Regions from separate parts of the Homo sapiens genome. Here all the other regions are linked to region 2. Evidence: fine-mapped expression QTL. A gene starts in region 2. Each other region holds a variant in brackets. All regions are shown on one strand. Distances are between the middles of the regions.

Evidence for each region. PIP is the estimated chance that this variant, and not a neighbour inherited with it, causes the effect.
Region 1: its variant is fine-mapped to the expression of GLUL in whole blood (TOPMed, PIP above 0.99).
Region 3: its variant is fine-mapped to the expression of GLUL in whole blood (INTERVAL, PIP above 0.99).

Annotation. Positions count from the first base shown.
Region 1 is chr1:182,172,338-182,182,873 of GRCh38, reverse strand. It overlaps the pseudogene YPEL5P1. Among named protein-coding and RNA genes, the nearest start is that of ZNF648, 120 kb to the right of the region's middle. The variant A/G (reference allele first, on the strand shown) is at 5,925.
Region 2 is chr1:182,386,546-182,396,027 of GRCh38, reverse strand. It overlaps GLUL (glutamate-ammonia ligase), which reads left to right and starts at 4,238. Exons shown (of 7, transcript NM_001033044.4): 1 at 4,238-4,349; 2 at 7,278-7,456; 3 at 8,736-8,897. The coding sequence starts at 7,291. RefSeq lists a silencer at 3,823-4,502 and an enhancer at 9,165-9,482.
Region 3 is chr1:182,140,909-182,151,444 of GRCh38, reverse strand. No RefSeq gene overlaps it. Among named protein-coding and RNA genes, the nearest start is that of ZNF648, 84 kb to the right of the region's middle. RefSeq lists enhancers at 6,550-7,217, 7,218-7,886 and a silencer at 7,895-8,071. The variant T/C (reference allele first, on the strand shown) is at 4,793.

The DNA.
Region 1 (10,536 bases), 210 kb after region 2:
CAAAAACCGCAACAGCCAACTGGGATGGATCTGTGAGTTTGCCACTGAAGACAGCCAGCATTATAAGGAAGGCTGTGTGATTCTGAAATGTGCTCTAGTTAGAGAGAATGAGGGCTTTGAGGAGCATGTACCATTCAATAACTCTTGGAAGAAAATGAGCTCAATCCATCTTTTTCCAGGTTTCCTTCACTGAAAACAAAAATCTGCTTACACACACTGCCAACTTAGTATCAGAGTCAGGTTCATAAACTGTGGAACAAGAGGTTGTGAGAATCTAAGATGGAACCTTTCTTTCTTTTTTTAAAAAAAGTTTTGTATTTTCCATGTAATAGCAGAGTGTGGAAAGAGTATTATGCAGATGTCATCAATTTTTCCCTATGTTTACATCTTAAGGCAGAAGAGTCTGTCTGCAACCATGTGATGGGCTGTGTAAAGAAAAAATCTGGGCTATTAGAGTGGAAAAGTGTGTTTTATATAAAATTTGAAAGGAAATATGTCAAGAGCATGGGTTTTTAACTTGAGCTTCATTTTAAACTTATTTTTTAAAAACCCAATTATTTTACCTGATTTGCTACCTTCAGAGAAGAGATCCAAATCTGGGCCGAGCACTAAGGACTCAGTTTTGGCATTACCTGTGCCGGCCAATGTGCCATATTCTTGTTGGAGATGAACCATAGCATTTTCCTTGCCAGTCTTGACCCAAAGGTGTCACCATTCCAGTTATTTATCACCATGTAATTGGTGTTGATTGGAAACTTTTTGTGAAATGGGGAAGAACTGCTTTGTTGTCTTTTTCTTTGTAACAAGCATAGTAATATAAATAAAATAATAGTTGGGAAAAAAATCTTACAATATCCCTATAAAGTATTGAGGCACAGAGAAGTTAAATAAACTGCCCATATTTACAGGATTTGGGATGATGGAGCTGAGACTTAAACCCAGGAAAGTCTGTTTCCAGATCCTATGCTCTAAACCACTACACTCTTTGATTTATAATGCGAGGAGATTCCTGTATCCAGCAGGAGTTCAGGTGTTATTATTTCTGAGCTTCCCTCCAACTTAGATCACTCAAGCTCTTTCCAGGGCTAAGATGGTTGGTATCTAGTGCCATTCAACAGTTATGGAACACTGACCATTCACCAGGCTCTGGGCTGGGCACTAGGGGCATTCAGATAAGTAAGACAAGACAGTCCTGTAATAGACAAAGGTGCAGGGAACTTCCATGGTCCACAAAGACAGAATCACAGTCTTTCCTCTGAGAGTTGGCAAGCTTGTAAAGAAGGCAGTATTTGCTTTTGAAACACCCTGCTCTCACCTTAGCTCATTTTGTCACCACACTCTCCTTTCCAGTGTCAACCAGCAAACCCACAAACATCTCACTGTTGAGGGAGGGTTCCTGACCGTATGTGGCACTAAGAAGGCTGAGCAGCAGAGTGAGCATGGATATAACCAGGCAAACTTGTTTTCAAGGCTCAGCTCAGCCACTGCTGGGTGGAATAAATCATGTGTTTAAGGCAAAGCAGCCAGAGATATTAGCCCCCCTCCGATACCTGCCAGTTATGACTCATTCTCCCCACTTCACCTAAAGCTATCAGATCTGGACAGGAAAATAAAGAAGTATTGTGTAATCTGTGCAATCATTCCGAATTCTATAAACATGGGCATTATATTTAACTTCTCTGTGGCTCAGTACTTTATGGGACTATTGTAAGATTGTTTTTTCCCAACTATTACTTTATTTATATTACTATGTTTGTTACATGGAAAAGGACAACCAAGCAGTTCTGTCACATTTGAGAAAAATATATAGGTACACACACACACATATCTATATATGTGTATATATATATGTATGTATGTATGTACAATTGTCCTATAACTGAAGATATTTATTGAGCCCTTGCTATATACCAGGCAGCATTCATGAGCTTTACCCATCTTAGTTCATTAAATCCTTATCATAACCATGTTGGATCAGTGTCATGGCAGCTACATTTTACAGATGAGAAAATGAGACACAGAAAAATAAAGCAAATTGTTCAAAATCACGGGGCTAGTAAATAGGGAGTCAGTTTAGCACATAAACAATACTGTTTCTGTCACTAAAATAGAAAATTGAGGCACTGAGAATCAATAAATTAGCCTGAAAGCCATGGTAGGGCAGTGAGAGGGTCAGAATGCCACCGGTTAAGTGTGTTCACCATGTAGGGGCCTGTTTCTACCACTCCTGTATCTCCCAAGAGGACACAGAAAAGATCCTTGGCGATCCTTCCTCCAACAAACATGGCTGTTGGTGGCTTTGTGTAGTGATATACATTCCTCAATGTCTATGTATGCTCATGTATATATAGGTTGGTGCAAAAGCATCTGCAGTTTTGCCATTGAAATTAATGGTAAAACTACAATTACTTTTGCACCAACCTAATACTTGCTTTTCAGGGTCCCAGTTGCATAAAGGCTAATCCCTCTGCTCATCCATTTTTAGAATGTCAGATGCTAATCACTTCCAAAGAAGTGATTCTCTGCATTTTGCTCCAAGCATTGATCCATCAGTTGCCTTTGCTCTTCACAGAAGTGAATCAGGACACTGGAGATACAAACGGTGCCAAAAACCTCTGCCCCTAAGGAAAGAAAAAAGGAGCATTGGATTGTTCCCTTCACAATCTGACAGGCGCTTGAGAAGAAAGAGCCCATATTTAATATGGTTAATGCATTTTGACTTTAGAGAAATAATAATTTTCATAGAAAAAAAGGGTAATATATTTCAAGCGTAAGAAGTCATACCATCAAGATGAGAAAGTTCAAAGTATATCCATGAGACAGGAACTTAAATTCTGGACTGATTGTGCTTGTATAATCTATAGCAGGTAGTTAAACTCCATGAATCTCAGCTTTCTCATCTATGAAATGAACCGAGTTTTATAGATGAGGAAAGTTTGTCTGGCAGAGCATCACAATGCAGTAAATGCTAGTTTATGTTTCAGTAGTCAGAAAGAGTAACGCGCAAAAAAGCATATTTTCATATTTTTCTCTCTTTTTTTTTCTGACATGGAATCTTGCTCTGTCACTCAGGCTGGAGTGCAGTGGTGCAATCTCAGCTCACCGCAACCTCCACCTCCTGGGCTCAAGCGATTCTCCTGCCTCAGCCTCCCAAGTAGCTTGGATTACAGACGCACACTACCGCGCCCAGCTAATTTTTCTATTTTTGGTAGAGACGGGGTTTCACCATGTTGGCCAGACTGGTCTCAAACTCCTGACCTCAGGCGATCTGCCTGCCTCGGCCTCCCAAAGTGCTGAAGTGATTGCTTTAGTGTCTATCACCCAGAGACGGAGTTAATGGAGTTATAAGACTGCCTGAAAAGATTCTCTGAAACAAAGCCTCTGGCTTCATACAAAGCATCTCAACTCACGTTAAAAAGTTCAAGGAAGTAAATTTTAAAGTTGAAATTGTAGAACTTTTAGAAAAGAACCTACATCCAAATTCCTGCCATTTGAGGATAGTCAAAAATTTATTAGACTCAAAAAGCATAAAGCATAAAAAGTTAAAAATTGATACATTGGATTTCATCAAAATTAAAAATTTCTTCCCTTTGAAAGACATCATTAAGAAAATAAAAAAGTAAGCCAAATACTGGGAGAAAATAGTACCAATTCATATATTAACAAAGGATTTGTATCCAAGACATATGCAGAACTCTTGCAACTAAATCATAAGACAATCCAGTTAAAATGGACAAAAGACTTGAGCAGACATTTTACGGGAAATATATGAAGGGCTCCTAAAAGATGCTTGACATCGTTAGATAGACACACACACATTAAAACCATTCTGAGATACAATACATATTCATTGAATTACTAAAATTAAAAAGACCAACAAAATGTATTAGTTTCCTATTGCTGCTATAATAAATTACCACATACTTACAACAACACAAACTTAATGTCTTACGGTTCTTGAGGTGAGACATCTGAAATGGGGCTTACGGGGCTAAAATCAAGCTGTCTGCCGAGCTGCATTCCTTCTGGAAGCTTTAAGAGAAAACCTATTCTTTGACTTTTCTATTTTTTTAGTGGCTGCCCTCATTCCTTAGCAGATGACCACATCACACTGACCTGTTTTCATCCTCACATCTCCTCTAACACTTCTGCCTCCACCTTCCATATTTTAAGGACCTTTATGATTATATTGGCTCACCTGGATAATCTCTTCATCTCAAGATCCTTAACCAGGCTGGGCATGATGGCTCACACCTATAGTCCCAACACTTTGGGAGGCCAAGGTGGGAGGATCGCTTGAGCTCAGGAGTTCAAGAGTAGCCTGGGTAACACAGCAAAACCCTCTCTCTACAAAAAATAAAATAAAATAAATAGCTGGGCATGACAGTGCATACCTGTAGTCCCAGTGGGAGGATCGCTTGAGCCCGGAGGTTGAGGCTGCAGTGAGCCATGATTGCACCACTGGACTTCAGCCTGAACAACACAGAAGAGTTCTCTCTCAAAAAAAAATACTAAAAAAGAAAAAAAGATTCTCAATCACATCTACAAAGTCCCTTTTGCCATGTAAGGTGACATATTTACAGGTTTTGGGGATTACAACATGGACATCCTTTGGGAGCTATTATTTTGCCTACTGCAAATATCAACTGTTGGTGAGAATGTTGTGATGGTTAATTTTATGGGTTAACTTGACTGGGCTAAGGGATGCCAAGATAGCTGGTATAACTTTTTCTGGTATGTCTGTGAGGATATTTCCAGAAGAGATTAACACTTGAATTGGTAGAAAGAAGAAAAACACCCTTCAATGTGGGCAGGCATTGTTTCATCCATTGAGGACTCAAATAGAGCAAAAGAAATAAATAAGGGCAAATTCACACTCTCTGTTTAAACTGGGACACCCATCTTCACCTATCTTTGGACAAGAGTAGTACTCCTGACTCACTACTGGCTTTCTTGGTTCTCCAGCTTGCAGACAACTTCTTGCCCTCTGTAATTGTGTGAGCCAATTCCCATAATAAATTATATACATACATAGAATCTCCCATTGGTTCTGTTTCTTTGGAGAACTTTGATTAATACAGATGTAGAATACCTGGAACTCACACTGCTGGTGGGAACATAAAATGATACAGCTATTTTTAAAAGCTATTTGCCAATTTCTTAAAAGTTTCTTACCTAACCACCCAGCAATTTCACTGCTAGGTATTTACCCAAGAGAAAGGAACACATATATCCACACAAAGACTTGCACACACATGCAACTTTATCATGTCCACAACCTGAAAAACAACTAAAATGTCCATCTACAGGTGAACAGATTTTAAAAAGCTATAAGATACAATATTATATTATACTCTAATAAAAATGAACAAACAATGGGTATATGCAACAACGTGAGTGAGCAAAACACCACCAAACACAGAAGAGAGAGTACATATTGTGTGATTCCATCATATAAAATTCTAGAATAAGCAAAATTAACATGTAATAACAGAATCACTCGGGACCCAAGTGGACTGTAGACAGGAAAGAAGAAATTCTTGGGGTGATGAAAATGTGCTAAATCTTGATTGCAGTAGTAGTTACATGAGTGTATTCATTTGTCAAAACTAATTGAACTCCATCCAACAAAGGAGTGCATTTTGTTGTATATTAATTATACCTCAATAAAGTTCAATATTTTTCTGTTCTGAGAAGGATATTAACTGCCCCCTCTGATGAGGCTAAATAACTTCCAGGAATTTCTTCCTGTCTAGCAAGAAGTTCTTCAGGGGCCAGTAGGCTCCATTTCCTCTTACTTTGCTCTCAATTGAGGTTAAAAAAAAAAACTCTATGGAATTTGGATCTCAAAGAGATATCTGCACTCCCATATTTCTTGCAGCATTATCTACAATAGCTAAGGTGCGTAAGCAACTTAAGTGCCC[A/G]TCAACAGATGAATGGATAAAGAACATGTAGTATATATACACAATGGAATACTATTCAGCCTTGAAAAATGAAATCCTGTCATTTGCAACAACATGTATGAACCTGGGGGATGTTATGCTAAGTGAAGTAACAGGCACAGAAAGACTAATATCACATAATTTCACTCATATGTGGACTCTCAAAAATTTGAACTCACAGGCGGGACATGGTGGCTCATGCCTGTAATCCCAGCACTTTGGGAGGCCAAGGCAGGTGGATCACTTGAGGTCAGGAGGTCGAGACCAGCCTGGCCAACATGGTGAAACCCCCATCTCTACTAAAAATACAAAAAATTAGCTAGACGTGGTGGTGCATGCCTGTAATCCCAGCTACTCAGGAGGCTGAGGCAGGGGAATCGCTTGAATCTGGGAAGCAGAGGTTGCAGTGAGCTGGGATCGCACCGAGACTGCATCTCAAAAAAAAAACTTTTTTTTTGAACTCATAGAAGAAGAGAATAGAATGGTGGTTACCAGGGGCTGGGAGGTTGGGGGCAGGAATGGGGAACTCTTGGCCAAATGGTACAAAGTTTCAGTTAGACAGGATGAATAACATCTGGAGATCTCTTTTACAGTATGATAACTATAATTAATAATAACGTATTGACTACTTGAAAATTGCTAACAGTAGATTTCAAGTGTTCTTACCACAAAAATTGATAAATGTGTGAGATGATTGCTATGTTAATTATTTAATTTCAATATGTATACTTATATCAAAACATCATAATGTACACTGCAAGTATATATAGTTTTGTCAAGTATACCTTCATAAAACTAGGGGGAGTGGAGAATGGCTCCTCAACAATCTTCAAGTGCTGTAAGGCACTTAGCCAGGACCTAAGTCCCCTGAAAACCATTCCTCCAGGAGGCTTCCTCCAACTGTAATTTGCCCCTGTGAATATGCCCATTCTCCCTATTGTGAAGAGCCCTAAGTTGCTCACAATTGGAGAAATGACTGAGCCAAAACAAAGGGATGAGCTGCAATGTGATCACAAATTTGGAAGGAATCCTGATGGACTGTCTCATTCTGATTTGTTCTGCTTTCTCCAAGCTGGGTCTGTTTTACTCAAGCAATTGAAAAATGTCCATGAAATGCCACATGCTATGCCTTGAATTAATTACAACAGCTCTCATTTATTCAGACCTTATTCTGTCCCAGGGGCCGGGCCAAGTACTTTATGTGCATCGTATATAAATTAATCTTCCTAGCAACCTCATGAGACAGATACTATTACCACCTTCATTTTATGGATAATGGATTAAAAGTCAAAGTGGTTAAGTGACTTCCTCTTTGTCAGTGGAGAACCATCCAGGGTTTTACAACTGCAGAGCCCATTAAACCATTGTCGTATACTGTTGATCCTTGTTCTCACAGATTTCAACATGTTGGGAGGATGACATAGAAACCTGAAACTAAGCATACAGGGAAGTGGGCTCTAGCCTATTTGAAAAGGCTCTGGAGGGCTGGGCGTGGTGACTCACATCTGTAATCCCAGCACTTTGGGAAGCCAAGGTGGGAGGATTGCTTGAGCCCAGGAGTTTGAGACCAGCCTGGGCAACATGGTGAGGCCCTGTCTCTATTAAAAATTAAAAAATTAGCCCAGCATGATAGTGCATGCCTGTAATCCCAGCTACTAGGGAGGCTGAGGCGAGAGGATCACTTGAGTCTGGAAGGTCCAGTCTGCAGTGAGCCTTGATCACACCACTGTACTCCAGCCTAGGTGACAGTGAGAACTTGTCTCAAAAAGAAAAAAAAAGGATAAGGCCAGGCACAGTGGCTCATGCCTGTAATCCCAGCACTTTGGGAGGCCAAGGCTGGCGGATCATGAGGTCAAGAGATCGAGACCATCCTGGCCAACATGGTGAAACTCCATCTCTACTAAAAATACAAAAATTAGCTGGGCGTGGTGTGTGCCTGTAATCCCAGATACTCAGGAGGCTGAGGCAGGAGAATTGCTTGAACCCGGGAGGCAGAGTTTGCAGTGAGCCGAGATTGCCCTACTGCCTGGCCACAGAGTGAGACTCCGTCAAAAAAAAAAAAAAAAAAAAGAAGAAAAGGCTCTGGAAAAACCCTTTTCTACTCTCCCCTCTCTAACCTGTGCTTTTTCCACACAAGCATCCTGGGCTTTTGTAATTAGCAGAATGCTTCCAGACTGATGAGCTGTATGCCTCATCAAATTCCTGATTCCTGATATACAGAAGAGAGACATGAAGGAGATGCTTTTTAAAGAGTGTTTGCAGAAAGCAAGAACATGGCATTCATTCACTTAATCATTCTGGAGCTATTACTAAGCCAAGTCATTGTGTTGGTGCTGAAGATATATTAAACAGACTTGGATCCTATTCTCAAAATGTCATGTTCTAATAATTATCACGTCCTATCACACCTTCCCTGTTGTTGGCCAAATTTCACCTCCCAATCTGAACTGTCATCGTAGCCTGACACAGCCAGCCCTGGCTCTGGGATGACTCTCTGAGTACTGCTTCCCTGATGGGAGTAGGATGGCTGAGGTGTGGCGTTCCTGTGGATTGGCCAAACAATCATTCAGGAAGGAAGGAACTGGTCTCCCCTTTCCTGTTCTCCCTTCCCTTCTCAGTGAACTATAAGGAAACAGTGAAATAGCGGTCTGGGACTAGCCGCAGGGACCCTTAATAAATTGCTTCTACACATCCCTCTTGCTTTTTAATGGAAAGAAAAGGGGTGGAGTAGATCTCTTATACAATTTCAAAATTGAATTGAGTTCAGTTCTGTAAAATAAATTCTAAGTTACATCATAATGGTATGGGAACATAGAGATCTGAGCCAAGGAAACATGAACAGACTGTTCCTAAAAATAAAAAATAAAAAAGTCTTGGTGCAAGAGCAAACATGAACAAGGAGTAATTAGCTTCTCCAGATGCTGGGAGTTACATTTCCCTGAAAAGAAAGAAGTTCTGGAAAGCTGAGCCTTGGCCAGAGGCTCAGGCTGACAGTGAGTCACTCACACAGAGCCTGGCACATTGTAGGCACACTCTGCAGGTGGTTGCAGCTGTCTTGATAGTTACAGAGGACACACTATTCAGGATCGTACCTACTTTAGAGGGAGGATTTCTGAATTTATTTTTTTTTTTAAGTTTTTGTAGAGACTAGGTCTTGCTATGTTGCCCAGGTTGATCTTGAACTCCTGGCCTCAAGTGATCCTCCTGCCTCAGCCTCCCAAAGGGCTGAGACTACAGGTATGAAACAACATGCCTGGCTTTGAATTTATTTGTGAATGAATAAACAAACCTGTCGTGGGAGCCCTTACTCTGTAGAATGGAGCAGGGCTACATGATAATTTAAAAGATACTACATGGCTGTGTCTGCCAAAAAAAAAAAAAAAAAAAAAAAAAAAAAGATGGTTTTACTAAAATTCAGAAATGCATTGAACTTTTTCTGCATTCTGAGCACATGTTATGGTGAGGGCAACAGTGAGTAAGAAATAGTATCTATTTTCTAAAAGCTACAATTTAGCATATGCATGTGTATGTATTATATGTATACGGGTAAAAACTGGTGCCATTTGGAATTTAAATGGCCACTATGAAATGAGAAGGGTGAGCTAGTGGGAATCAGGGGCCTTAGATGGACTCACTGGTTTATTCACTCAATTTGGAATTCATCCAAATCCATCACAATTTGTACTGAGGGGTGGCATGGGAAGGGTCAGTTATAAATGTAATAGGTATTATGAAATAATACATGTAGAGGAATAAAATCTATCACTCCTTGGAGAATCTAGGAAGTCTTTTTGGAAGAAGTTAAATTGACCTGAACTTGAAGGAGAAGTTAGGGCAAACATTCAAAGAAAAGGGAATCCCCAAACAAAAGTAGAAAGCTACAGGGATGGAAAGAATATTTGAGAAAGGGCTGAAAGACCCTGTAGAAACAACAATGAGCTGTTTGTCTTTACTCTGAAGCTGTGAATCCTCAGTGCTCTGGTAAGCAGAGCTACTGCAAGACCTTCATAAGCCCCAAGCATAGAAATTATTATGGTATTTCCCCATATGCTATTTCAAAGTACTAAATTACAAAATAAGGTTAAGTCCAATAAAGTTCTCATTTTGCCCATTAAGAATAGTTTAATCCTTTAAAAAAACCCAAATATCAAATTCTTTTTTAAAAATATGCTTCAGAATCTCTGGTTTGAGATATTATTTAGAATAGGAGAAGCTTTGCTACAGCAAAAATGAACTCTAAAAACTCAATGGTTTAACACTCATGAGTTTGGTCAGGGTAGCCCCTATGGGCAATTCTCCAACTGAATTCCACCTTTTAAAATTTATTTGTAAATTCAGAGATACGAGAGTTTGGTTTGCCATATACTTGCAAATATTCACTCTCCCTTTCATCCAACGAAACTTCCAGAGAGGCATGTGAAAGTGATTTTTAAAACCATATGGTGCACCCTTCAAATTGAAACATTATTATCAACAGTAACAAAGTGGAAAAATGCATACACTTTTAAATTATGTTATCAAGATACTCCTCTCAGCACCTTTATTCATTGGACTTCAGATTGCACTTCCAACTCTACAACCTTCAGCTAAGGAA
Region 2 (9,482 bases):
TCTAATTCTAGAATTGTATGGCTTTAATTTTCTCAATAGGACATTTTCCCCAGGTTGTTAACTAAGATGAACTTGATTCTTCCCAACTTTCCACGTAGTTTCCTGCTAGAGACATGATTCAGGGTAGAGCTCAAACAGACCCAAACCTTCCATCATAACACGCAGTTGGGGAAATGAAGTGTTCCTTGTATTTGACTGATTTCAGCACGCATCCTACAAAACTCAAATCAGGCTACAGATATGGCTGAGACGTGAATTTCCAATTTCCTGTCTTGAACTGAAGAATATCAAACAATCAAAAACTGTAAAGAACAATTCCTCCATTCTTAGTGCTAGTTATTGAACTGAAGTATAATGTAAATGTAGTCTTTCCTTCTCTAATTGTATAAAGTGAAATTTGAAAGCTTGGCCAACTACAGCTTTTCCCTAAATTATGGTTTAAGAATAATGCTATCAACTTCCAGAGCTATTTCTTTTCTTCTTCATTTTTATTATTATTATTTTGATTTGGTTTAAGATTCTACTATGGTCCATTCTTTTGGAAAGAACTGATGTTGGTTTATTACATAATAATAATTTTTAAAAGAATATTTTACAATTCTGGGTTGGGTTTCCAGGGTGTTCCCCAACCCTGAGTCTCAATTGTATCTCTTTAACATGATTTAAAGGTCTCACTGAATGCCTATTGAAATCATTCATACACAGGGAAAACTCCATTTCCTAAACAGAAAAGGTTTGGTCAATGTGAGCCCTACCCTAAATTTTGTGTCTAATGTGTATAAGGCAACCACACAGGCCCTGGGAAGGCACTCCAGATCCCCAGGTAAAGGACTTCATACTTGCAGAGTGAGAATGGATCCTTTAAAAGACAGAGAAAGGGCCGGGCACAGTGGCTCACGCCTGTAATCGCAGCACTTTGGGAGGCCGAGGCAGGCGGATCACAAGGTCAGGAGTTCAAGACAAGTCTGGCCAATATGGTGAAACCTCGTCTCTACTAAAAATACCAAAAAATTAGCTGGGTGTGGTGGCACACGCCTGTAATCCCAGCTCCTTGGGAGGCTGAGGCAGGAGAATTGCTTGAACCCGGGAGGCAGAGGTTACAGTGAGTGGAGGTTGCAGTGAGCCGAGATTGCGCCACTGCATCCAGCCTGAGCAACAGAGTAAGACTCCGTCTCAAAAAAAAAAAAAAAAAAAAAAAAAAAAAAGAGAAAAGTTGTTTCCTAATAGAGATAAGATTTGGGAGTAGAGCAAAATCCTAATACAAAGCTTTTATTTCAGGCAGCAGAACAACATTGAAGAAATACTTTTAATCTCAGGCTATTTCTGCAGATTTGGAACAAAATCTTTCCCTGTAATTGCTCTCCCACTCCACCCACCCCTTGGACATGGCAATTCTACTCTAAGAGAGAAAAATATGACTTCAAAGCACATGCAATGGAACCCCTTGTCAGCACTGATATGGTGTGTACCAAGAAACAGAAAAGTTCATGGGTTCAAGCATTCTAATGCTCTTTTTATGGTGGGGGTGAAGAATGGGGGCGGGTGGCAATTTAGGGAAGAAGGGGAAGGAGAAGAAAGGGCAGCAGACACAGCAAAGTCAAACTGGATGAAACAGGCTGTTTTACTTTTAACTTCTCTAAAAGTACAGTCTGGGTTTCTGCGGGTGAACCAGTTAAGGGTTTTCTTCTGCTTTTACTTCTCGCCTATGCTCAAGCCTCCCTGGTCAGTTCTTGGACTCATCTGCGCCCTAATTTCATCATTTTAAGTAAATGTGGGGCTGGCCAAGGAGGACAAGGCCTCTTGTTCACTCCTGAAAGAGTCAGTGGTCATGTATTATGTTCCTAACCCTTACAAAGCGTGCCCCTGGTCACATGAATGGATCAAAGCAAATCCATTTCCATTCTTGGAAAAGCAGCTCAAAGCACATGTTCTCTTGATGGTGCTGCTGTCACTTCTGTGTGGTTAACAAATATCATTTATTGAACACTCACCGTGGACACTACTGGGGGATATGACAATGAATAAACTGCTCAATGAGGTCAAGACATCTAGGAAGGGAAGCAGGCACTCAAATGGCAGAAATACCATAAGCCTGCAGAACCGCACTCACGCCTTACCATTCCGTTCTCTGTTATGTTTGTCATCCCCACCTCAGGGGCTGGTGGTGTGTGCAGCAGAGGCTCTGGCTTATGGTTCGGTAGTTTGGTATCTGGAAATGATTAATAACATCTTTTAAAATAAAAATATCACTTTTCTCCTCCTTTGCTCCCCTTCCTCGACCATTTAAACTCAAACCTTTACAGAAAGAGATGAAGACAGCTCACTGTGTTACCAAGGTTAAGTCCAGTTTGATATAATGAATGGTAAAGCATTACACTGAGTCAGAAAAGTTGTATTCAAAAGTCGCTATGGGGAAAGAAAGAATCCAATCACCTCAGATTATAGAACTTGGCCTATGATAATTATAATTGCTGTTTTCTAAACATTTACGATGCACCAAGGACTACTCAATCTCTTCTGCATGTGCTATCACAATTAATCCTTTTATGAGGTAAAAATGATTATCCCTCTTTTATTATAGACAAAGAAACAGGCTTCATGTGGCTAAGTGATTTGGCCAACACAAAGCTGGTATGAAGGGAAAGCCCAGATTTGAACCTAGGTTTACCTGACTTGCAGCCGTGCCTTTAGCCACCACAATGTAATGCTTCAAGGGGCAGCACTGAAATTTAACAAGGAATTTGTAAGGCACCTTACCCAATCCAAAATGTCACCAGTCTGAAACATCCCAAAAAACCCTGTTTGAGATGAATGCTGCATCTGTCATGTAAAAGCACTACAGTGTTATACACTCTTAAAGGAAAGGGATGTTGACCAAAGAAGCCAAGTTATGTGTGTGTGGTTGCAGGCAACATTTCTTTTCCACATTTGCGGTACAAAACATAACCAGAACAAACTTCTTCCCTTCCTCTTCCAAAGGCACTGGAAGCATAAATTCTTGCTCTTTAAACTGAAAGAAGCAATAAAATCTGGACACCATCAGGTAGATTTCAGGCACTAAAAATAGAATGATCGAGTAATAGTACGGATAGCAGTATCTACCTACCTACCTACCTACCTACCTATGTTGTGTCTCTAGGTACATTTCAATATTGTGTTCACATACACATTTTCCCAACCATCACGGCAAGCTGAGAGGAGAGGTATGTATTCCCATTTTCCAGATTAACAAGAAGCCGCACTTGATAAAGCAAAATCAGGGAGAATTCGTTAAAGGAATTTCTTGACAATCCCTGGACTTCAAAGGGGGCAAGTGAACACCTCGATTTCCTTTCAGCTGCTCCGGGGGCAGTTTGCACACAGAATTTCAAATCTAGTGGGCGGCTCCACAGGTCATTTTCGATGACCACTTTATTTTGCAGATGAGGAAACTTGGGCCCTGAAAGACCTGCCTAGGGTCTGGCCAGCAGTATGAGACAGGTCTCCAGACTTAGTTTCTACCGCCCTCCAGAATCCTCTCTGTAAAATTAGAGAAACAGCACGTTGATTTCAAATGTGAAATGGCAGAGTTCTGTTTATTTCCCCAGACCCAAGAGAGCCGGAGCGGGCGGCTCTTCCAGGCCTTGGGAACCCCGGCCTGTCCCCAGGCCCGCGCGGCACCCGCCCTAGCCCAGGCCCGCCCAAAGTTCCCTCGGGTCCCGCGCCCCGCGCTCCCTCTCAAGCTAACCCCTGCCCGCAGGAAGCGGGGCTCGGAGGCTCCCTCGCAACAAAAGGCTAAATTCGGTTTCCCTGGTTCCGCATTTCCCCAGGGAGCTCTCCTCGTAAAACTATTCCCCGTGAAGGCGGCAGGGCAGAGGTCCAGGGCGGGCTTTGCTGGGAGCCTCGGGACCCCGGGTTGGGGGCCGTGGGGCGGCACCTGGCGAGCTGGCGGGTGGGCGGCGAGCCGAGGCTTCCCGGCCTGGCGGCAACTCGCCCCTCTGCCCTCAGCCCTCCCGGCTCCGCTCCCTTCCCCCACGCCGCCCTGCCCCTCCCCCACGCCCCTTTCTCTTTCTTTCTTTCTTTCCCAGTTCGCTTGCCCCCACCCCAGCGGCGCCCGCCGGGCTCCTCGCCCAATGGCCGCGGGGCCCGGGACCGCATCAGCTGATCGGCCCGGGCTCCTGGCCGCTGGGAGCCAATCAGGGCACCGGGGGCGGCCCCGGGCCGCGGATAAAGGGTGCGGGGCTGCTGGCGGCTCTGCAGAGTCGAGAGTGGGAGAAGAGCGGAGCGTGTGAGCAGTACTGCGGCCTCCTCTCCTCTCCTAACCTCGCTCTCGCGGCCTAGCTTTACCCGCCCGCCTGCTCGGCGACCAGGTAAGCCCCCGGACGGCCCGGTGTCACGCAAGCGAGGCGCGCCGCCCCTGCTACCCCGCGAGGCGCGCCGCCCAGCCTCTTTTTTCGGCTGCCTGCCCCTCCAGTCCCAGCCCTACGCTGCGGCCTCTCCGGCCCATGCCTGAGATCCGGCATGAGTGCTCCTCCCGCGTGCTTCCGCCGCTGGTGGCTTGGACCCGTCGGGGCTGGCGCTGGTGGGGCGCGCCCTTGGCCAGGCTCTGGGAAGGGCGGGGTGAGTTGTTTTGATCTTCTTTTCACTACTTGCGGCCGAAGCGCCGCCCCTGGAGGCCGTTGGGCCGGCCTGCGCCCTGGGGCTCGCAGTGGTTTGTTTGCGCTGTGGATGGAGTGGCGGTGCGGTCCCCTGTGGAGCGCAAACAAGGCGCTTGGTTGGCGCGGGCGCCTGGCTGCCTTCCTCGTGGTGGGGCCTTCGGAGCAATCGTCCTGGTTCTGGCGATGGTTGAGACGCCTCGATTGCGGCGTGTAACGGTGAGCGTTGTTTGGGCGGCCGGCTCCCGCCTCGGGGTCCCGGGGGCCTTCCAATGTGACCGAACAATGGAGAGCCCGGGCCTCGGCGCAGTCAGTGGAGAAGCCGGTCCGGGCGGAGGCAGCAGCAGCGCGCAGTCCCTACGGCCTGCGCCCCCACCCTCCCCCGGACCCCCCAACCCCTCGGCGGCAGGGTATGGCCACCTCCGTGAGGCCCTGAGATTCGGACGGGGGCCCGAGGGGCAGGGCGCCCACTTTAGGGACATTTCAGTGGGAAGGGGCTGCTCTCAAAGTGGATAATTATAACTCCCTCGGGGGCGGGAAGCGGGGATCCTCCCCCAGCCGCAAGTCCACGAAGAAAGCAACGAATGAAAATTATGAAGACAACGAGAAGTCAGACTCCTCCGGGTCGCGCTCCAGCTGCTTCGGCTTCGTCGCCTACTCTGTGAACTCCGGGGAGAGATCTCGAGTCAAGATTAAGACCTTAACCCACCAACCTGCCTGTTCGGACACCCCCCGGGCCGGCCGCTGTCTGTCCCCTTCTCCATCGCCCTCTCCCAGAAAGCTCCGGTGCTTGGACCAGCTAGAGTCTGAGAAAGAGGAGAGGCGCGAACGCCACTCCAAAAAGAGAAGGGTTAAAGAGGGCAACCCTAACGATACGCTTGACTTTCTGTGGCTGGGGTGAGTGAGGGGGCAGGGAGGACGACCCCGGAGTTGGTGGGAGCTGCAGAAACTGCTGAAAACTTCAGAATCCATTTCCCCCACGTAAACTTGGCACCGCAGCAGCAGCAGTTGATAGAGTGGCACTAGGCTGCTGGCATGCAACTCGGCTCACGGAAAAGAGCAAGAGATCCGAAACTGAGGCTTAGGACAAAGTGTGCATGATATTGGTGGTGTAACATGTTGGAGAGGACAGCCGAGAAATTGGGTTGTAGGTTTTTTTTTTTTGTTTTCCGACAGAGTCTCTATCTGTTACCCAGGTTGGAGTGCAGTGGTGCAATCTCCCGGCTCACTGCAACCTCTGCCTCTGGGGTTCAGGCGATTCTCCTGTGTCAGCCTCCCGAGTAGCTGGGATTACAGGCGTGCACAACCACGCCCGGCTAATTTTTGTATTTTTAGTAGAGACGGGAGTTTCATCGTGTTGGCCAGGCTGGTCTCGAACTTTGTACCTCAGGTGATCTGCCCGCTTCGGTGGGTTGTAGCTTTTAGCGGGAGCTAAAGGGTTCTGGGATGGAGGTGGGAAGTAGGATTTGGCCGGCTGAGTCTTCTAGAGGCAATATTGGGGTGTTGGTCTTCCCCAAGGGGAAGGGTGGTGAGGCTGAGGGAGAAGCAGTTATGTTTTCAGCTGGGCAAACATGGACGGTTGCCCGTAGAAACTTTGCCACTGTACTTCAGAACGTTGCCCTAGTCGTTGGAGGAGAACAATGTGTTCCCTTTCTAGCCACCCTGGTCCACGGAGGGAGGAGGGAGAGAGAGAATGTTTCCTCTTCGGCTGTTGTGGCTTGAGAGTTTCTCTTCTTTCGGAGGTTTTGTGGTAGTGGCTGGCAGTTATTAGTATGCCTCATGGCTTTTAAATTTCCAGATCTTTTTGATTTAGAAGTGGAAATTTCCTAATTACTTGACAAGTCTTGTAGAATTCCATAATGTTGTGATTCTTGCCCACTATCTTAAGTGAGACTTTGCATGAGACCTATGGAAATTATGGCAGCATTCCCCTTAGAATCTGGCTTGAATCAGCTTTTGTGTAGGAAACTGCTAGCCTTCTAAAAAAATATATTGTAACCTTGTTTCATCCTCAAATCTAAATGTGTAATGAGTTTTCTTTTGGTGGGGAGGGGCGGTGGGTTTGAGTTAAGACCACAGCTAGGATGAAAGACAAAGAGAAAAACAAACTGTGGAAGCCAAGCCTGTTCTGTGGCTGGATTTTACTTATATTGGAAGAAGTTCTATGTTTTGTAAATTTGTGTATTGGTTTTGATTTGTTTCCTCTGATAGTTTAGTATTTGGATAGTTTAGTGTTAACCTCAGCTACACTGAAGGAATAGACCTTAGTCCTCACAAGTATAAGTTCTAGCTTGGAAGCCTGGGTTCTGCAGTAGCTGTGGAACTTAAGCCTGTGAGCTCAGGGATGCAGAGGCATTGAGTTACTACCAAGGGCCTGATCTTTTCTTTAGCAGGCATCTGTGTTAATTGTTTCAAAAGGTGGTGATCAGTTTTACAGCCTATTATAAAGGAGATTTTTGCCTACTATAAAACTAATCCCCCTGAAAGAGTGAGTAAACATAACTTTTTGTGTGTTGACTTCCACAAGGGAAGGAGTTGGCACTTACACTCTGACTTTTGATTCAGTCGTCCTTCTTGAGCCATTTTTGCAGGGGATCAGTTTGGAGTGGGCGTTAACAATGTTATTCTTTTTTTCTTCTCCAGAACACCTTCCACCATGACCACCTCAGCAAGTTCCCACTTAAATAAAGGCATCAAGCAGGTGTACATGTCCCTGCCTCAGGGTGAGAAAGTCCAGGCCATGTATATCTGGATCGATGGTACTGGAGAAGGACTGCGCTGCAAGACCCGGACCCTGGACAGTGAGCCCAAGTGTGTGGAAGGTGAGACAGCAATGTGGAGTGGAGCACATGCTGGGTGGGATCTGCAGAGGGGTGGGCAGCAGCCTTTGACTCAGCCTCTGGATTAGGCCTCTTTCTTCTGTTTGTAAAGGTTTTCTAAGGCAGGGCTTTTCAGACTTTATTCAGTCAACATTAAGCTCCTACACTGCCTCAAAGCAGAGCGACGATGGAACCCTTTATTTCAATGGAATTGTGCACGTAGGCCAGTGTATTGAAGAAAAACTAAGTCTGGTTTATGGAGAGTTGGCATGGGGCTTAGAGGTTGCCGACCTGGACATCCCCACTTAGCTGGCTCTAAGGCACCCTCAGAAAACCACTGCTCTAACCTGAGAATGCCATCTAGTTTACAAACTCTTAGAAAACTGTGTTTAATACTCATATCACTGGCTTCTAGATGTGAAGCAAATGCTCTACAATGGTTTTTAAATAGGACTAATTTTTAGTTGATGCCACTTTTGGAAATTCTTAAACTAATTGCGTATCCCTCTAGGAGCTACAGTTAGATTATAGTTGTGACCTTCATTTTTCAGTCTAGAACAAGCCATAGTCTTCCCTCTTCTGGAAAGGGGCCAGAGGAAAGTATCATATCCTACCTAGTTTAGGGTAGTTTACTTTTCCTTTTTGAGTAAGTGAATGATCATAATACAAAGCCTATATTGTGTACTTGCTATGTGGCAGATGATAGTGCACAGACACTGAAGATACAAAGTGAGAGTCTCGTCTCTGCCTTCAGAGAACTCAGTCAGCTAGAGAGACCAAGCAGCCTTCAAAACAGTGGGAAAGGTGGATAGGTGATAAGGGAGCATCCTAGAGTAAGTCATCCTGCTAGTCGTCTGTTCCCTCATCTATAAAATAAGGACATAACTTGCCAGAATACACTGGGGGCATAAGAAGGATGCAACACATTACCTAATGGAAGAATCAGAATCCTTCACTATCTCAATATTTTAAGTGATTGATAGGATGGTAGTGATAACAGAATGCTTCAGCTTGTCTCCTGGAAGACATTTGGGAAGGGAGTATCTGATATATTTCTTTTAAGGAATTGGTACAATGGTCTTACTTGGAACTCAAATAGGAAGGGCTATAAGATCAGGTACAGGTGCCAGGGTATACATATTAATGATGGCATTTATACCTTAATGAATTCCTGGAAAAGAGATATTTAGAGATGGGAAGGTGAGTGAAGGGCTGGCTGTATTTGCATTGCTTGGAAAGCTCCTGTATGTTTTAAATGTAATTTTCCCTCTTTTTGCCCCAGAGTTGCCTGAGTGGAATTTCGATGGCTCTAGTACTTTACAGTCTGAGGGTTCCAACAGTGACATGTATCTCGTGCCTGCTGCCATGTTTCGGGACCCCTTCCGTAAGGACCCTAACAAGCTGGTGTTATGTGAAGTTTTCAAGTACAATCGAAGGCCTGCAGGTGTGTTATAGCACAGCTATGGATACCCCTCCTCAATCTGTGAATGCTGTGAAGGGGAGGGAGAAGACATTCTGAAATCAGCATTGGGAAGACTAGGCAATTTCAGCACTATTTTAAGAATCTGAGTGATTCTTTTCCCTGAACTTCTGCTTTGAGGAAGAGATAATATGGCCCATCTTTCTATGGTCTTCTCTGTTGGTTGCATAAAATAGCATTGGATTTGTCCAGATCTGTTTGCCGGTCTTGGAGTCCCCAGTAACAGCCTTCCTGCCTGGAATGTAGGCCAGGACAAATGTAAACCAATGGACAAATGTTTCTCAAAAATTATAGAATGGCTCCAAGTGCCTGAGAAATGAAGAATAAATCTGACAACCAGAAGCAGCTGTCTTGTGAATAGAGGGTTAAGTGCCTGGCATTTGGTGCTTGGGAGGTGGCCAGAATGCAGATAAGGTGAAAGTTGCCCTGTTCTAAATCCACTCCCATGTGACTTGGTTGTAACTGAGTTTAGTTAAAACTGAAGTCTTTCAGAGTCTTCCTACAGATGTACAATTAACAGCTTCTCTCATTTTTCTGACTCGGTGATCC
Region 3 (10,536 bases), 250 kb after region 2:
TTTTGAGTGGCCAAAAACTTAACTACTGATATCTACCATTGCTTGGAAACCTTACCTATAACCAGAAACAGATGATTAACATGTATTTTGTATGCTATATGTACTATACTGTCTTATTACAATAAAGTAAGCTAGAGAAAAGAAAATATTATTAAGAAACTCATGAGGAGAAAATACATTTATAGTACAGTACTGTAGGTATTGTTACTGTAAGTTTATGTTGTCTGTTTCTAAGATGAGTCCTCCATCTGAAATGGCAGATGCCACAGCTGCAGACCTCAGTCTATGGTACATATCAAGCAATTCAACTTCTTCTAGGAATGTCATGACTTTTCTCTATTTTTTGGGAGCACTTCCAACATTATTAGTGGCACCTCATATAAGTCCCACAGTGTTACTCAAAGTTTATAGGAATGCACTAAACATGATGAAAAATAAGTGAGAACCAATTTACTGGAGAGACAAACTGCTCACTCTAGATGATCAGCATCACACAGTGTTTTAAGTGGATACTCATGATATTGGAGCTCACTGCAATAGCAGCAGGGGGTGACTCCAAACGGTTAACTTTATGCAGTGACAACTTAATACTACATCTTTATGTTTGTTTGGATTTCTCTTGACTGCAAATGGCACTGGTCTGTAAGTGTGTGTGTAAATTTTGATAAATTTTAACTTATTTTTACAGATTTGTATATTTTATGGTAGTAAATGATAAAATAGACTAACATCTTTTTATTCTTTATGTATTTGTGACATAACCTTTTCTTAATTTTTTGATATTTTTAGGCTACACCGTTGGTCTGTGAGTTTTTTTCAAATTTTCACAAATCTCCAAACAATATTCCAATATATTTGTTGAAAAAAATTCACCTGTAAGTTAACCCATGCAGTTCAAACTTGTCCAAGGGTGATCCGTGCTTTATCTAAGTTCCCTACTTGTTTGTAAACTGTTGATGATGATATCCACCCCTCAGGATTGTTTTGAGAACAACCATAGTAAGGAAGCAAATGCTTGAGAAGTGGTTAGCAGAATGTCAGCACCATGTAGCAGATGTTGGCTGTTGTTATTGCCTGATTTGGATGGACCATGGGCCCAATTTGAGGTGACATTTCCTTTGGTCTAAATTTAGGGTTTCAAAGGAGTAAGTATGTCAGTGCCTGCCTTCATGAGGGATCCTAATGAGCATGCATGTTGTATGTCACATAGCAACATACCCAAGGACTGTCCCTCTGTGTACTTGTAGCATTGAGTGGCCTGGGTCACAAGTGAGTTTGATTTTAGGTATCTAAAGTCTTCAACTGTCAAGTTCAAAAATCCACACAAGACTAATCCTGTCTTGTTCCCAGGGCTGGGCTAAGACTTAGAGGTTTTTCAGGGCAAGAAATGAATAAATTAGCTGTAAGAATGTCAGGGCCAGGCTAAAACAACATGGTCTGAGGGAATGTGATATTGAGCTGGGATTGAAATCACAGGGAGCCATGGCTGGTCTATGCAAAAAAAGAAAGTTAAAATTGCTTGTAGGGGAAAAATACCAAAACACACAGCTTTCAGGAGTCAAGGCAAACAAGGAGAGTAATGGCCTAGTAAGAGAGAGGCCATGAGGAACCTACCTGGAAAGACTGAATGGCCAAACTAGAGGCCATGAGGATCCTATCTGGGAAGATTGAATTCAAAGCTGAATTCTTGAGCCAATAATTTACCCAAAGCTGGGCCGTGAGGGCCAGTCTCAAGAAGCTCTAAAGAAATGCAGTGGACAGAGAGTGGGAAGTTAACTACAGTGACTCAGCAGGGCTTGATTCAGCCGTCCCTTCCCCTTTGCAGACTGCTTTTGTCATGTGTTAGGTGATGTATGTTGTAATGGAGCAAGGATGTTGCCACCATGGCAACGTGAAGTCAGAGCTCTTCTGAGCTCATTTCTCGGAACCACTTCCCCCTTCCCTTGACGAGCTTTCTCATGGAGCCCTCTGTTACCAGTCTTTCAGAAGCACCTCCACAGAGATCTTCTGTCGTCAGATGCTCCTATCAAAGACAGCTCCTCCTCTTCTTCTGTCTTCCTCTAAAACCTAACCCCAGGTTCCCCTCAAAGGCTTCTTCCTGAAGCTTCTCCTGAGTTCACATATCTCTGTTATTTTGAAAAGAAACCCCAGTACTCAGTAACAGTCAAGATGTGAAAGAAATGAGACTGAATCAGAACAAAGTTGGACCTCGGATAGTGAACAATAATCACAACCTCCAATCTTCCTTTAGTATGAAAGCTCTGGTCTCTGAAGTCCCTCTCCAAGGTCACTGCCTGGTAAGGGTGGCAAGGGCTGACATAGGTCTTAGGTCCTTCCTAGCAACCTGGCTGTGCGTGGGAAGGAATGCAAGTGTTTTCTTACTCTCGTACATCTTTGCTGTATCTCTTAGTTTTCGTCCACTCCTGCCTCTTGTCCCTGCATGTTTATCTCCCTGCCAGCAGCCCTCCACCTTTAGAGCTTTCCCTAATAACCTGAGGACTTCCAGAGTGAAGCAGGAATAGGGAGGCAGTGAGATGTAATAGGAAGATCTTCCCAGAGCTGAGATGTCCCAGGTGTTCAATGAAATATTTTGGGTTTGGTAGAACATTTTTAAAAAATATTTTTGAACATTGGCACTAAAAATAAAACCCAAACTCATCCCTTCTCCTTTAGATTTTTTCCCAGCTCCTTTGCACCAGACATTCAGTAACTGATACTCCTTGAGCATCTAGTATGTGCTGGGCACTATAATAAGCTCTAATGAAACAGAGAAATCAGAGTTCTTGCCCATAAGGAAGGAGTATACAGTCAAAGAAAATTCCAATTATATTTATCATTTGCTCACATACACCTTAGAGACCTACTATGTGCCAATTCAGTTTTTATCAAACATAGTCTACCGGCCTAACCTGATAAGTTTGCTGGTAGAGGAAAGGAGGTAGGAAAGTTGGTGCCTGCCACTGAGGGGTAGGGTTTAACAGTAATAGGAGAAGGAAGTAGGAGGAAGGAAGGATGGGAATCGGGTAGGGAACCACGGTGTCCTCCTCTTGCCTGGGGCCATTGGAGACCCCCCACATGCTGTTACTCACACCCATGCAAGGGGCTTCTTTGCTCATCATCTGGGTTTCCAGGTAGGGCTGGGCCAGCAGAAATCTATAGGGGCAGAACATCCCACCCTGGTGCCTTTCTCTGAGGCCAGGGCCCATGGGAAAAGCTAAGGCAGGGCTGTGGCCTCAGATTACACTGTCACTCCCACGAGGCCGAGGAGTTTGGAGAACAGGGTTCTGGCACCGAGGAAGGCCTCTGAATTCTGTCTCAAACCCATGATTAACACTGTAATCTTAAGTCACTTGACCACTCTGTGCCTCGGTTTTCCTCAGCCGTAAAAAGGGGAAAGAGTACCTAAATCATTGGGTTACTATGAGAATTAAATAATTTAACCCTGCATAGCATATAGTTCATGCTCAGCAAGGGGTCACTGGCCCAGACAGTACACCAAGGACCCACACATGTGTCTTCTAGTCAAGCAAGCGTTCAACCAGACTCAAATTTTATCAAAAACTATTGTCATTATCTGAAGCACATGGTAATGAAGTCGTCTGAATAACTAGTTCAAAATTGTTTTGAACATAGTGATCCTTGGAAAATGAAAAAAATATATAAGTATTTTTCTAAACTGGAATGTGGCAGGGAGTAGATTAGGAACCCACTTTCCATCACTTTCCAAACATGACCAGATTTAACTGGACATATTCTGACACTCCATCCTGGAGATGGCTTCTTTAAGGAGCAGTTGTTGGGCAACAGCTACTTTCATCATTTTGGTTAGAAACTAACCCTGAGTAACCAGTCTTATGAGAGAAAACAGTTAATGTCTTAAAAATCTTTCTGACTCCAACTCCAGTGAGTAGGAATTTTAAGTCATGAATACTACTAATTGTAATACCCTGACTACTGATTATCATTATAGCTAACATGTATTGAGACCTTACTAAATACCAGGCACTGTCATAAGTGCTTTGCATGCATTAACTCATTTAGTCATCAGAAATAACCCCCAAATTGGTGTTATTTTCATTTCTGTTTGACAAACAAGGAACTAAGGCGCACAGATGTTGAGAAACTGACCTGTGGTCACACAGCTACTCTGCAGGCAGCTGGTACTGTGGCTCCTACGTGTAACTGGCCCTAACAGACATAGCTCCTCGCTGTTCTCTTAAACTTAGTACGTGGGGTTGAATATTCCTTTCTTATGGAAAGATTACAGTTTCATTTTTCTCAGTGAGGAAATTATTTTCATAAATTGATTGGATTTATTCTACACACAAGGTATTAGAATCAACATAGTTTTTTTTTTTTTAAGTTTCTATGTTTCCATTTTACTTTTTTTTTTTTTTTTGAGACAGGGTCTGGCTCTGTCACCTAGGCTGGAGTGCAGTGGCATGATCCCAGCTCACTGCAACCACTGCCTCCTGGGTTCAAGTGATTCTCCTGCCTCAGCCTCCTGAGTTGCTAGGATTACAGGCATGCGCCACCATGCTCGTCTAATTTTTGTATTTTTAGTAGAGACGGGGTTTCACCATGTTGGCCAGGCTGGTCTCGAACTCCTGACCTCAAGTGATCTGCCTGCCTCGACCTCCCAAAGTGCTGGGATTACAGGTGTGAGCCATTGTGCTTGGCCCATTTTACTATTTTTATGCTTACTTTGTATCTACAGAAGTGATATAGGTTTTGCATGTAAAGTGAAATTATCACTTTTACTTCTGAAACAAAATGATTTAAGTCAGAAAGT[T/C]TGCTTACAGGAAAATTAATGTAGTATGAAGCAGTATTACCAGGTGTCTGTGGGTGTGGTTGTGTACCCTGAGGGTATGGTACCGCGGGGCTGGTATGTGTACCCTGAGGCTTGGTGAGCACCTGGTCAGTGAGCCGGTGTTTGCCTGGACAAGTCTGAGCTGCAGTTGACACAATGGCCATTGGCCAAACTGGTGGAAAGTTTCAATGACAGGTAAACAAAAGACTGAGGACCAGGAGGGGAACAGCCAAAGAGGATGTAGGTATTACAAAGGAGAATTTGGGGAACATTCTACTAACCCGATAAGTAGCCGTGTGTTCAAAAATGTCTTTTGCCCTTCCCTGAGCCAGTCTTCCTTCAAAATGTTAACAATACCACTGTTTCTTTCATTCCAAGAAGCTTGATCTTCACACCTGACATTTCAGAGATCCTGTGTCTTACAATTGATGTGTATGTTTAACAGAGAAACATTTTTCTTCTCCTTTCCCCCTAAAAGCTGTTATTAACTCGCTGCTGTGTCTTAGTCAATGGCTTCTTAGAGTCTAGAAAATACAGTAAGAGTGATGTACGAGAATACGTGGTTTTGAATGTGGTGCTTAAGATACATCTTTGACTTAACAATTGCCTTAAAATCCTACCTTAACAAAAATTTAGCTCTTACTTTCAATTTTGATTTGCTTTTGATTAGACACAAGTAAGGAGTGAAGCCAGACACAAACCCAGCTCTTCTCATTTGAAGTTCAGAATTCTTTCCCCTGCATTCCATAATTTCTCCATATTTATCTCAGAGGACTATGCAGAATATGACAGTGGGTTACCATGGAATATCTGGGCAAGGAGCTCTAAGAGTAAAACTCCAGGCCAAAGACAAAACAAGTATTCAAATCCCAAGGCATCTCTGTGAGATGACAGATGCTCTTGTCTGCTCTTCAGATCCGAGGGGTTTCCGGAGGGCCAGCAACCATGCCCCCAACACGTAGATGGCTTAGCTTGCCTAAGAAGGGCGGGCATTGTAGAAATCTGGACAGTTCTGCTGACCTTCCTCTTTCTGTCTCCCCACTCTTGATTTTTTATGTTAGTCCCCATGGCACACCCTCTTTGTGAAGTCTCTCCAAATGGAAGCACAAGCTCTCCCGAAGGATCCCACACCCCACAGAGTGATCTCTAGGGTTGCCCATAGCAACAGCTGGTACCATGGAAAAAAGCCTTCCTTTCATCCGTCAGAGCTGGGCAGTAGGACCCTCTCCCAGGACCCCAGGAACAAGGTCTTTTTCTAGCTCTGCTATGGAAACTTGGGTGACACACATCACCTCTTGGAGCCTCAGTTTCCTCATTTACCAAATGAGGCTGATGTGAAGTCATTTTAGAGTCCCACTGAGGACCACTACTGTGATTTTCCTTCACCAACATGAGATACATGTGGCTGGTTTCAGGCTCTTTCCTGAAGCAGATCTTAGTACTGGGGAGGATGGACGGTGATGTCGCCACTGAGAGTGATGAGAGAGAGCAGACCCACCACCAGCTGCCCTCCTGATCCTTGGAAGGCCAGTCTCACATCTCAACATTCCCAGCCACCTTGTTACCAACGCTTGTGGAAAATTTGATTTGGACAGAAGGGACTCCAGCCCCTTTTAAGTATACATATGCACATGCTTTAATTATTAACTGCTTAATGTTGTCATTGAAAATATTTATTTTAATACTACTCTAAAAGAGTGAACATTTTTCACGTATTGACCCACAGCTGATTTCTTATCTGCTGTTACCAAGAACAAGAAAGGAGAGAATAAAGCTGAGGAAGGTGGCAGGCTCGATAAATGTTAGATTGAACTGTTCTTTTTCAGTGCATGCCCTGCCCTTATCACTGATATTGCCATTTTCTACTTTCTTTTTTTTTTTTTTAAAGTGTATTTTGAAGGCAAATAAGAAAAGAGAGCTATGGTGTAGTCTGGAAAACCAGGGTGTTTACCGTTTAGAGGAACCAGAAGTTCATAAGGGCCTGGCTGGACTAAGAAATGACAGCTCAGCACAGGGAAGGGGGGAAAAAAACCAACAGCAGCAGCAGCAGCAATGCAAGAACAAAACATTTTAAGAGATCTGGCCAGAACTGGTCTGTACAAATCCCCAGCTTGGCCTTCCTCCTCCACTCCCCCTGGCTCCCAGGCCTGTTTCCCGGAGTAGTAGCAGCCTTGCCTCCCCTTAAGAAACCTGCCCACAACTCACACTCCCTACATGCCAGTCATGCACACTCGTGTGTGTCACACCCTCTGCTCATCCCCCCACCCACTGAAGTCAGACCATGTGTGAGGGAGGATGAGAAGCCGGGGAAGAGGAAGACAGCTCAGCTGGCTGGCCCTGGCCCCTGAAGAAAACAAGCAGAGGCAGGGAGGGAAACATACTGTTCCCTGCAATCTGATCACCTCCGTGCAAGCCTCTGGGCTACACACCCAGGCCCAGGCCCAGAGGCCACGCTAATGAGACCAGGCAGGAAAAGTGAGCTGGTGACTGTTCCTGGGCAGATTAGAAACACATTGTGGAGAAGTGGGGGCACGGTGAGGGTGTGCAGGGCAGTGTGGTTGAGGCTGGGTGTGGGGCTGGGGCATGCGGGCCCAGAAAGGAGCAGAAGAAGGACTGCTGTCTTTCTGAGCTCTGATTCCAGCTCCTGGGGTGGCCCCCTGGCAGCTGCTGAGGCCTCACAGTGAGAAATCTGGAACAACAAAGGCTCTGGGACAAAAGACTCTCTGGCCAGAGGGGCTGCTGCTTTACAGGGGCCAAAAGCTTCACTTCTGAGGGGCACGTGGGTCCACCAGTGTGGGAGGCTGCAGGCTGAGAGGCAAATGGGGTTTATTGAGGAAAGGGAACAGATGTTTATTGGGCATTTGCTGGGTGCCCCCATTAAGCTAGGCTCTTTTTATGTATTTCACTGTGTTTGAGATCACTGTGAAATCCTCACTGCATCGGAAAATGGGAAGCAAATAGCTTTTTTCTTTTTATTAGGTCAGTGACACCTAGAGTTCGCCCAATATCACATCAGTGCCATTTGTTTGAAAAGTTAACCAGAGGCCAGCTGGGATTTTTGTCACTAGGAAAACAATGTAGCATGCGCTTCTTTAGCTTCCAGTCCAGGCAAGGACCTTCGGGGGTGTGAGGATGGAAGTATGTCTTCATGCTTTCTCCTGTGAGCCGCCAACCCACAGAACTGCTGGACCCTCAGCCCTTCAAATCCATCCTCCGGGAAGGTGCCTCTCAAACCTGCAGGGCCACCGCTGAAGTTCTCCCACGGACTCTACTCTAGCGCCCTCTGGTGGCCACCACTGCCAAGCCTGGTTGACTTGACTGGGAATTTCTGGTTAATAGCAGCTACGTTAATATCACTTAGCCCAGCTTTGTGAAGGTTCACTTGTGCTTTTACTTCACCTCTGATTTCTGCGTTATCATTACTCTTTCCATGTTTCCACAGCCTTTGTCAGTTCTCTGCTGCTTCATCTACGTTATTTTCATGGGGACCTGTGTTATTTTCATGGGAACCCCAAAATCAGGGAGATGTTTTCTTACCAAGATCTTTGTTTTGTACTATATTGCCAGTGGACCAACTTCGTTTTATTGGAATTTTTTTTTTTATTTTCTGGAGGATCTTTCTCCCTTCCTCCCCTTAGGAATTCAGGACACATTTCTGAAAGACTGGTTTTACTATGTGAGAAGCACAATGTTGTATACTATTTGAATTTGAGCTTCCCTTGTCCAGGGACGGAGTGTGGGCATGCCACCTCTGTTCAGTTATGGGGTGAGTTTCTTGGCCGCCTGGGACCCCTGCCTCCCGCCCAAGAATGCAGGTGAGAGCGTTTGCCCCTGGTTTTGACCAGGATGCCCAGTCCTGGTGTCTGAATTCCACCCATGAAGCCTGACCAAGCACAGTGGGAAAATCAGCCTATGGCCAATGGACATGGAGGCCAAGTTTGAGGGAGAGGGAGTTTGCCCAGAGTGGCAGCTGCAGATATGATCTGAAGGGTAAATGCTCACTGCAAAACAGGAGGGGAGCCAAGGTCAGAACCAGAGAGGCAGGGTCAGGCAAAGGGCATAGAGAAGAGCAAGAAGCTAGAGAGAGGAGAGGAGGCACACACACAGTTGGGACCAAAGAGGCCAGGTGAGATCTGGGAGGGGATGGTGAAGAAGCACAAGGCAAGGATGCCAGGGCTCTCATCAGGGGCCTGCTGTGTGTGGCATGGGTCTAAGTGGGTAAACCACAAGTCTGCAGATCTGACCTAGTTCACAGAGCCAAATGTACTCTCCAGATGTCAGGTTACTGTTTCTCCAGGGAGGCCCGTCAAGACCACAGGTAAATAGAATCCCCAGTAAGCCAGCCCCATGGCACAATTCCATGGATATAGAGCATGGGTATCTCTGGGGCCTTTGTCACACGAGTGTAGCTGGTGGATTAGCAGGGCCTTTATTTATGTCGGGCTTCATTTACTTGTTAATTTGTTCTTTAATCATTTATTCACTTCTATTTGACCAATGTTTTCAGGTGTCTACTGATGTTCTAAGTAAAATCCTGGGTAATGGAGCAGAAAGACAAATAAGATATGGTTTTGACTATTGTAAAGTCTGGATTTTCTGATTCAAAATTCAGTATCCCAGCCAGGCATGGCGTCTCATGACTGTAATCCCAGCACTTTGGGAGGCTGAGGTGGGCAGATACTTGAGGTCAGGAGTTGGCCAAGACTAGCCTGGCCAACATGGGGAAACCTGGTCTCTTTTAAGAATACAAAAATAGGGGCCGGGTGCTGTGGCTCATGTCTTAATTCCAACATTTTGGGAGGCCGAAGTGGCCAGATCACCTGAGGTCAGGAGTTCAAGACCAGCCTGGCTAACATGGTGAAACCCCCATCTCCACTAAAAAATACCAAAAAATTAGTCAGGCATGGTGGCAGACACTTGTAGTCTCAGCTACTTGGGAGGCTGAGGCAGGAGAATTGCTTGAACCCAGGAGGCAGAGGTTGCAATGAGCCAAGATCACGCCATTGCACTCCAGCCTCAGCGACAGAGCGAGGATCCGTCTCAAAAAAAAGAAAAAAAAGAAAAAAAAAGAAAAAAGGCTGGGTGTGGTGGCACATGCCTATAATCTCAGCTACTCAGGAGGCTGAGGCATGAGAATCACTTGATCCCGGGAGCCGAAGGTTGTAGTGAGCCAAGATCATGCCACTGCACTCTATCCTGGGTGACAGAGCAAGACTCTATCTCAAAAAAAAAAAAAAAAAAAAAAAAAAAAAGAAAGGAATCTCTGTAGTCTCTTTGGCTAATCTCCAAAATCCTGCTTTAGGCTCCCCAAAGCCAAACCTTTGCCAAACCTTTTATTTGAAGCTGAGGTGGCAAAAGGATAACCACACAAATTCCTTGAGCTCTGCAGGTAAACAGCTAGGTCCAGGGAGGCTACAGGGTGACCTCACCCAGCCTCAGGTCATAGGCTTATAGTAAGCCACAGCTGCAGGTATTATCTGCACCTTAGAGAATTTCTCCAGGCTTCACCACCTGAACTCTGCTACAAACCCTTCCCTTCTCTGTGCTGTTTTCCCTGGATCATGATCCTAGAGTCTCCTTGCCTAGGTCCTCTGCTTTGATGATGAATCTCTGGAATGTTGCCCATGAATTTAACTTCCATTTTTCCCTTGGATCCCTCCCTCACCTCCATGCACTACATCCCTCTGCAAGATTCCTGGAGCCCCAGCATCTCCGGTTTCTAAGAT